Regions from separate parts of the Homo sapiens genome. Here region 2 is linked to region 1. Evidence: fine-mapped expression QTL. A gene starts in region 1. The other region holds a variant in brackets. All regions are shown on one strand. Distances are between the middles of the regions.

Evidence for each region. PIP is the estimated chance that this variant, and not a neighbour inherited with it, causes the effect.
Region 2: its variant is the best candidate, but not a certain one, in a credible set for the expression of TMEM272 in CD4 T cells (BLUEPRINT, PIP 0.86).

Annotation. Positions count from the first base shown.
Region 1 is chr13:51,843,431-51,847,825 of GRCh38, forward strand. TMEM272 (transmembrane protein 272) reads right to left here and starts at 1,747. Exons shown (of 5, transcript NM_001351003.2): 1 at 1,586-1,747.
Region 2 is chr13:51,816,404-51,820,798 of GRCh38, forward strand. It overlaps TMEM272 (transmembrane protein 272), which reads right to left. Exons shown (of 5, transcript NM_001351003.2): 5 at 1-710. The coding sequence ends at 348. Among named protein-coding and RNA genes, the nearest start is that of DHRS12, 14 kb to the left of the region's middle. The variant A/G (reference allele first, on the strand shown) is at 1,622.

The DNA of each region.
Region 1 (4,395 bases):
TCCAAAAGAGGGTCCCTCAACAGCAAGAGATGCCCAATAGAGCAAATACATACTAATGATGGATTCATGTCAATGCAATCCATTAAATGATTGACTAAAATCTGTAATGACACAGATTTTAGTCAATTTCTATACCTTCTATATCTTCTACTAAGAAAACGTACATTTTTTCTTATTTGATAGAAAGTTTTCTTATTTGTTAGAAATCTGAAACAGGAAGAGATTGGGGTAACAGGCCGGGCAGTGCCTTCTCTCCAGTGTGAACAAACAGTGACTTACAAGTCTATCCTTGGGCATGCTGTGATAGGACTGTGTGTCTCACACCTGCCTCTGCACCTAGAAGGGCAGTGATAATAGCCCCTGCTGCTTCCTCTCCTAGCAGCTGAGTGATAATAAAGGGCACGATGGGAATTAATCAATAATAATTGCCAAATGATATGCTCAATGCATTTTCAATTTTCAGTCCAATTGATATATCTCAGTGGTTCTCAACCAGAGGTGATCTGATCCCCAAGGCACATTTGGCAATATGTGGAGACATTTTTAATAGTCATGGCTGGAGCAGGGCTGTCGATAAAGAGACCAGAGATACTGAAAAACATCCTCCAAGGAGCAGGGCAGTCCCCAACAACACTTATCTGCTCCAAAATGTCAATAGGACTAGGTCTGAGAAACTTTCTATGTCTGTCTAACATTCCCAGTTTTAGAGTTCAAATTTGTAAAATTCTACTTTTGTTAACCTCTGAGTTGTGTCATGAATCAACAGTAAACATATATATATGTATATATATGTGTGTATGTGTAGACACACACACATATATATATATGATTGTGTTTTTACTGATTGGCTTGGTAAATTAAACTATTTATTCCTAAATCAGCTGTGAGGACCAACTCACTCTTGGTTTTGAATAACATTGAATATTAGACATTAACCATCCCCATACCTGTTCCTTCAAAGCAGATGTTAACTAGTATTGTTGAATATTTTCAACAAACATTTCGGGTGCTCAGGACACAGTCCTTTCTTATCTGTAGCTCTCTGTGTAACCTGTGCTGTTTTCTCTCCTAACCATGCCCGAATGCATGAATTCAGTGGAGGTTATCGCATACCTACTGTGTCTCAGAGTCATTCCACAACCTCCCTAGGATGCCTTCATTGTTTGGCTCCTAGGAAATGAAAAATGCACTTCCTTTGAGCTCTACCACCCCTTTAAAATGACCAAGTCAAAGCCACTTGCTCACAGCCCCAATAGGTAAGACATGGAGGTGATGCCTGTGGTCCCCACTCGCTGTCCTGCAGCCGGTAGGTTGTTTCTAAGAGTCCCACACAACTTGCCTTCGCCCTGCAGTTAATTATTCCTTTACGATTGTTCTCTTCTCCAGAAAACCCATCTCCCTTAGACTCAGTGAAGATTGTTTTCGTTCCCTCCACACAATTAAGAAAAGCACTTCCACAATGTAGTCATTTTCTTTCCAGGAAGCATAATCAGCACATTGGCATCTTCCTAAGAATGATTTCAAGAAACCCTCTGCTAGGACTGTCTCTCCAACTTCACAGGCTGCCCAGGGTTGCCGGACTCACCTGAGCTAAGCAGAGTGGGATCCAGAATCGGGCAGCACTCAGCACCTCTGTGGTCCCGAAGTCCAGGGCTGCCTCTGTGGGGCTCCTCTTGACTTGGGGCTCCCACTCCCTGTCGCACGCTTTCTTTCTCCCTTTCTCTCCTGCAGCACAACAGCAACTCGTGGCTTTTCCTCTAAGGGGCGGGTTCTCTCCATTTCCCACTCCCACGTGTGGGGAGAGCAGCCCCACCGCCGGCTCATACCCCTGCAGTGTTCCCCAGGCCCGCAGGGGGGCAGCAGAGCGACCCTGGGAGCTGTGGAAACATGGCCGACCCCTTGGAGTTAGGAATTCCCGCGGGAAACATTTCATTTCAGTCCCTTAGGCACTAAACCTAGGGACTTAGTTCTGGTGCGAGCCCCTTCTCACCCCTTGCCCTCCCTGCATGTTGGTGGCACACGAGAAAGGGTGGACCGAACAGCGGCTGCTTAGGAAAGAGTGTGAAGGTACTCAAAGTGGGCTGAGGTAATGAGAGGTGCCCTATGGACTTCAGGACTGCCACGTAGAAAAGGGATTAAATTGATTCCGAGTCATTGCAGACGGCCAGATCTGAGATAGAATGAAGTTACAAGAAGGCTGAATTGTGCCCCATGTCATAAACTTTGTAACAGTGGCCTTCTTAGACCTGAAGCAGGCTGCTTTGTGAGGCTGTTGTGTGTCTGTATTGTAAGCAAGCACCTAGCAGTAGAAGTTCTCAGCTGCTGATTTATAAGAAGTGCCAGAGATTCTTTATTGAAATGCAGATTCCTGTACCACCTCCCAAAGATTCTCAATCTGTAGGTCTGGGCCTGGGCCCAGGAATCTGCAGTTTAGACTCTGCTAAGTCTCCTGTAGGTGCTCCATGGACCACACTTAGAGAAACTGGCGTCACATGACTTAAAGGCATTCTCCAACCCTGACATTCCAGGTTTTTTGTTGTCATTTCGGTGGAAAAGGCCAGTCTACTGGGGAGGGACTGGGGGAGGGACTGGTGTGAGGCAAGAGAAGAGCCTATTATGTAAAATGCAAGGAGCTGCTCCCTCTGAAGCTACCCCTGCATTGCACACCCCTGGGAGGAGGGCACCTCTCCGGGCTCACTCTAGGGCTGGCCCTGCCACTCTCCCAGTCCTGAATCCAAGGTGACCACTTCACACCACAGGACAGGGTGAAGCAGAGGAGCAAGGGGAGGAGAGCCTGCTAGAGGAAAGGACATACAGTCACAGTCATGAGCCACATAACAATGTTTCAGTCAATGATGGACCACACAGATGGTGGTTCCTTAAGATTATAATGGAACTAAAAAATTCCTATCACCTAGTGATGTCATAGCAGTCATAATGTTGTAGTGCAACACATTACTGATGTGTTTGTGGTGATGTTGGTGTAAACAAACCTACTGCACTGCCAATCACATAAAAGTAAAGTACATACAATTATGTACAGCACATGATACTTTACAGTAATAAAAAACAACGAAGTCACTGCTTTATGTATTTATACTATACTTTTTATCATTATTTTAGAGTGTACTCCTTTACTTATATATATTAAAAAAAGGTTAACTGTAAAAATGCCTCAGGCAGGTCTTTCAGGAGGTATCCAGAAGAAGGCATTGTTATCATAGGAGATGACAGCTCCTGCCTGTTATTGCCCCTGAAGAACTTCCAGTGGGACAAGATGTGGAGATGGAAGATAGTGATATTGATGATCCTGACCCTGTGTAGGCCTAGGCTAATGTAATGTATGTATAATGTATGGGCTAATGTATGAGTCAAAATTAAAAAAAATTATAAAGTAAAAAAGTTACAGTAAGCTAAGGTTACTTTATTATTAAAGAAAAATATTTTTAATAAATGTAGTGTAGCCTAAGTGTACAGTGTTTATGAAGGCTATAGTAGTGTGTAGTAATGTCTTAGGCTTTCACATTCACTAATCACTCACTCACTGACTCATCCAGAGCAACTTCCAGTCCTGCAAGCTCCATTCATGGTAAATGCCCTATACAGGTGCACCATTTTTTAATCCTTCATATCCTATTTTTACTGTACACAATGTTTAGATACACAAATACTATGTGTAGTATTTTCTACGTTTAGATACACAAATACTTACCACAGTGTTACAACTGCCTACATTATTCAATACAGTAACATGCCATGGTCTCTGGCCTTTTGGGAACAGTACTGGTCCCTAGCCTTTTAGGAACCGGGCCCCACAGCAGGAGATGAGTGGCAGGTGAGCAATCATTACCACCTGAGCTCCACTTCCTGTCAGATCAGCAACGGCATTTGATTCTCACAGGGGCACAAATCCTTCGTGAACTGTGCATGCCAGAAATCTAGGTTGCACACTCCTTATGAGAATCTAATGCCTGATGATCTGAGGTTGAACGGTTTCATGCCAAAACCTTCCCCATCCCCACCCTCATGAAACTGGTCTCCGGTGCCAAAAAGATTGGGGACCACTGGGTGTGTAGTAGGCTATACTATGTGAGTTTGTGTGAATACATTCTATGACCTTCACACAATGGCAAAATTGCCGAATGTCACATTTCTCAGAACATATACCCATGGTTCAGTGATACATGACGGTACTTGAATCTTCTCTTATCTCACACTGAGTGAGTGGAAGCAGAGTGACTGTGAGCAGTGAGGTCAGAGTCTTAAGGCTTCCCTGCCAAAGTGGTGGGGGTCTGGGAGCACACGGTGACCATAAGCCTGGCCTGGACGTGGCCAAAAAGGGGCAGCAGTCTTTTTTGAGCACATTTTAGCCCTGACATCAAAACAAACAAAATT
Region 2 (4,395 bases), 27 kb before region 1:
CATTGAAATTGCACTATGATTTGAAAAGGTCTCCCATTCTTTGCCTCCCACACTTCATACCCTCAAAAACAATTATCCCTTTGAAAACTCTTGTGAGAACAAAATTCCCACTCTGAAAAGAGCAGAAGTGATTTCCCCATGTCTAGGAAGGCAAGAGTTTCTTTAGTCTGCTATTATATTCAGTGCCTTTGGGTGGCTTTTTAAATGCCTTCAGGGAAGGTTTTATTACCTTTATGCCCTTCTCTGAACCTGTGTGTGTGTGTGTGTGTGTGTGCGTCTGTGTGTCTGTGTGCACGCGCGTGCATGCACACGCATATGCATACATGGTATGCTGGACAAGGCAGCTGTCAGTCTTCATCGGCAGCAAGTCTCCACCTGGAGCACAGGTAGACACAGCCGCTGCACAGCAGGAGCAAGACCAGCACAGTGTGACTGAGCGCCAGGACTCCGACTGCAAAGAGGTACAGGGTTTTGTCACAGTAGTCCTGAGGCTGCTGGAAAGGGGGAAGAAAATCAGGCAGGTACACAGAAAAGACCCAGTAGTTTCCCAGGATGAACCAGAGGAAGAGGAAGAGGCTCAGCAGGAGGTGGATGTAGTATCTGTGCGCATTCTGCCTCCAGGGGTATTCGTCATCGTCATCGTCATCAATCACCACGGCCTTGGACAGCAGCCGCCTCATCCTGGTGGAGTCGTACAACAGGAGAGACACCTGGGGCGTGGTGGGGAGCCAGGGTGGCAAGGCAGAGCAGCAAAATAGACGGGAAGAGAGGGGATAGAAGGTAGCGGTGGTGGGGTGTTGGCAGGGAGAGAGAAAGAGGAGAGAGAGGAAGGTGTTATGAAAAGTGAACAACACACTGGAGTTACAAATGCCATCAAGCAACGAAATTTAATTTGAAGAATAAGAATTAAAACTGGCAAGAATGAAGGCATAAATTCATCGCCAGCATCCTCAGTGGTGTTTTCCTTTTAGATGTGTGAGTTGGTTTGGACAAGGGATTGGCTGGGGTAACCCATCTCTGCATCAAGGTTCAGACTGACTCTCTCCTGTATTGTGCTAGCACATTTGCACCCACACATAATGTAAAAATGACACCTGGTCCGCATGCTAGAGGACCTTGAAATATATCCCTCTGTCTTGGGAGGAACCCCTAGCAGACTTTTCCCTGGTACTTCCAGGCCATGTAACAGGCTTGGCCGAATCCAGGTACCGTGAGCCGTTTCCTCCCCACCCCAGCCCCGCCCAGCCTGCTTTCTCTCTTCTTGGAAGTTTGTACCACTGCCCATCTCAGGCATCTGGAATTCCCAAGTGGGGCTGTGGACTGAGAGTCCCTCTCAGTCCTCGTACATCTTTCAAGTCAAGAGCACAGACCCTTGTCCTGGGAGTGATACTCTTGGGGGACAGACCATCTGGGCCCCTGGTAGATGGTCCCTGACTCCAGCCTGACACGCCTTCGAAATTCTGCTGCCACTTGGTTACACAAAGCACCACGACCCACCCGACTCTAACTGGCCACAAATGCCTTTGTCACAGGGGAGCACACTTTCCCCCTGGAAATGCAGCGGTGGAAGGACACAGGTGGTCTTTGCTAAGGAATGCCTTAACAGCTCCCCGTCTTCTCT[A/G]CCTAGCAACTTGATCTGTGATGTTTTTGAAAGCCTGACCTGTGTATCTGCTCTCTCTGGCTTCCTAGGCTACCCATCTCTCCCGAGGCCACACTCATGGCACCCCTAACCCTGGAGAGCAGGGCATTAGAAAGAATCCTTGGATGACGGAGGATGTGGCCGACTGGCAGAGGCGGGGAGAGATGCTGAGCTTGAGTGAAATGGAAGGGCAAGCAGGAGCCAAGAGATGCAGCTAACTGGGCTCCAAACTGTAAAGAGAAGCAAGGATAAAATAAAGAGAGACAGAGAGATGGGAACAGCGAACCCCAAGCTGTGCCTTGGGTAGGTGATAACTCCAGATTTGGACTTGTTCCATTTAAAATTTTGGATGGAAATGCAGGGTCTAGTGGCCCACAGGGGGCAGAGTCAGAGCCTGGAGGTGAACAGAGAGAGGTGAGGACTCCTGGCAGAGATCTGGGGGTTACCCGTGAGGAGGTGATAGTGACTCTGGGAATGGATGTTGTACAAAAATAGACCCTGGTGCTGGGCAAAGCGCTTGACATACATTATCTCAATGAATTCTCCCAGCCTGAGGCTAGAGGTACTAAATAAACATGGGCGCAGGACCAAAACTGGAGCCATTGGGCCAAAATGTCAACAGCAATTTTCTCTGGGTGGTGAAATTTACAGATGATTTTGATTTTCTTCTTTGTGCTTATCTGCATTCTCTGATTTTCCAAAATGGAGAGTTATTACTTATGTAAAGATACAAAACCTAAGGAGAGTGGTTAGTTTAATGCTTGGTATGTGTGATCTTTAATGTCCATCCTAGCCTGGGGCCGCGTATTATCTCTGTTGCCCAAATGAGGAAACTAAGGCTCAGAGAAGTTAAGTCACTTCACTGAGATCCACAGTGAGTAAGAGAATGAGAAGGGCAGTGGTCCACACCTCTTTGACCACTGTCTACACCACAGTACACTGATGATTAAATCGGAGGAAATTAAATTGGAGGGTTCTCGCCTAAGACTTGCAGCCCGGCTGGGAGGCAGAACATCTCCATAAGAAAAGGAAAGTGAGGCCTTGGGGGAGTTCAGAGAGCCACCCACAGTAGAGCTGACTCATCCAGGGAGGGCTGCCTGGAAGAAGGGGCATACTTGGGACCCCTATGCACAAGGAGAGGTGCGAGGGTCCTCCTCTGAGGGGGAGTGGTGTGGCAAAGGTGAAGGGTGGTGGGTTTAGGGTAGGGGAAAAACCAATTGCCTGTAGTAGGTTGGCTGACGGTGGCTGTGTGGTTGGGAAAGCCCAGGCTGAACACCAGCTCGCTGTTTCCTCACTGTAAGCTGGAACTGAGAGTCCAGCTCAAGTTTCCATCACTCAGATGCATTTCCCTTCCTTGCAGGGCCCCATTCCTTGGAGGAATTCCCCCACCCACCACGTGTCCCCAGATCTGGCTGCCCTCCCAGGACTGGTTCTTGGCTACAATGATGCCAGGAGAAAGGAACCAGCCCAAGGAAAGAGCCGTGGCAAGTGGGTCCCACTGCCCAGGCTTCCTGGAGCCACCTGGCCCCCTTCTCTCCCACTAACCTTTGAGGTTGTGAGCTCTTCCAATCAATGACCTCTTAAGTTAGCCAGAGTTGATTTTTTGTTCCTTGTAGTCAAAGAATCCTTCCTGAAGCAAGTACCTGCCTCAAAGGGGCACGGTGAGGACTGAATGAATTCCAAATGAGGGCAGAGCCGTCAGCATGGCATCAGCAAAAAGCACATGCTTACTAGGGGTAGCAATTGCCACTAGGAAGGGTGATGTGGGAAGATGAGGGGGAGTGCAGGGTAGGCAATGGTCACTGAATCCGTCTTTTGGAAACTGTCTTTTAACATGACCCTCAGTAACAAATACATTTTATGCCAGGTCCTAGTCACTGGGTAACTGCATGTCCTTGTTGGCTTAGAGAAGTCCTGGTTTATGCTGTTGCTCTGGCAGGATGATTATTAGAGCCCCCTTGTACTCTCAAAAGTGTCCCAGTTAGGATGATAAATTACACGGTCAACTCACCCAAACACACACATGTCCATATGTAAGTATCACACAATACTTAACTTACTAGGCACTCTAATTTTCTATTTTATTTTTTAAAAAGCAGGTCACACACAGCCTACTTAATTCATTTCCTGATCTTTTAATGGGGCATGACCCTCAGTTCTTTCTGGTAGCTCCATGAAATGTCAGCTCACATCTCTTCAAGTTTCTCTTCATAGAATGCAATACTGTGAAGCTATCTGATGCATTTCACGAAGGATGTTGGGACCCCCTAGGCAGGTTCTGAGGTTGAATACAAACCATCATTATCACAGGCAAACTTCTGCCTCTGGGGACTCTAATCCTGTTTGCCGCTGCTCTAATGGTTATGGACTCACTGTATATTACCTTGCCATCATGAGCACAAAAATTTAATTTGGCTTCAAACGGTTTTAGATTGCCAGGGCAAAAAATCAATGCTGCTTATTAGGGCCTTAGTTTGTTCACTAAAATAAATTACCTTTGGGTCCTGGGCTGGCTTTCAGAAAGGAAAAGTTTGCTGTTTTTAAGAGGAACAGACCCCACGGACAGTAGCATCTCTAAAGGAAAGTTCTGCTGGGCAGCTTGACGATGAGTGAGAACAGGAGAGGCAGAGGTAATTACTGCTGAAAACGCTGCCCTTGTTTTAAGCATCTCTATGGCACTCAAACCGTTAGAGCCTTCCCTTAACACTGTGGGGGCCATGGGGAAAATGTGGCCCCGCTGAGCCAAGAGCCTTTGG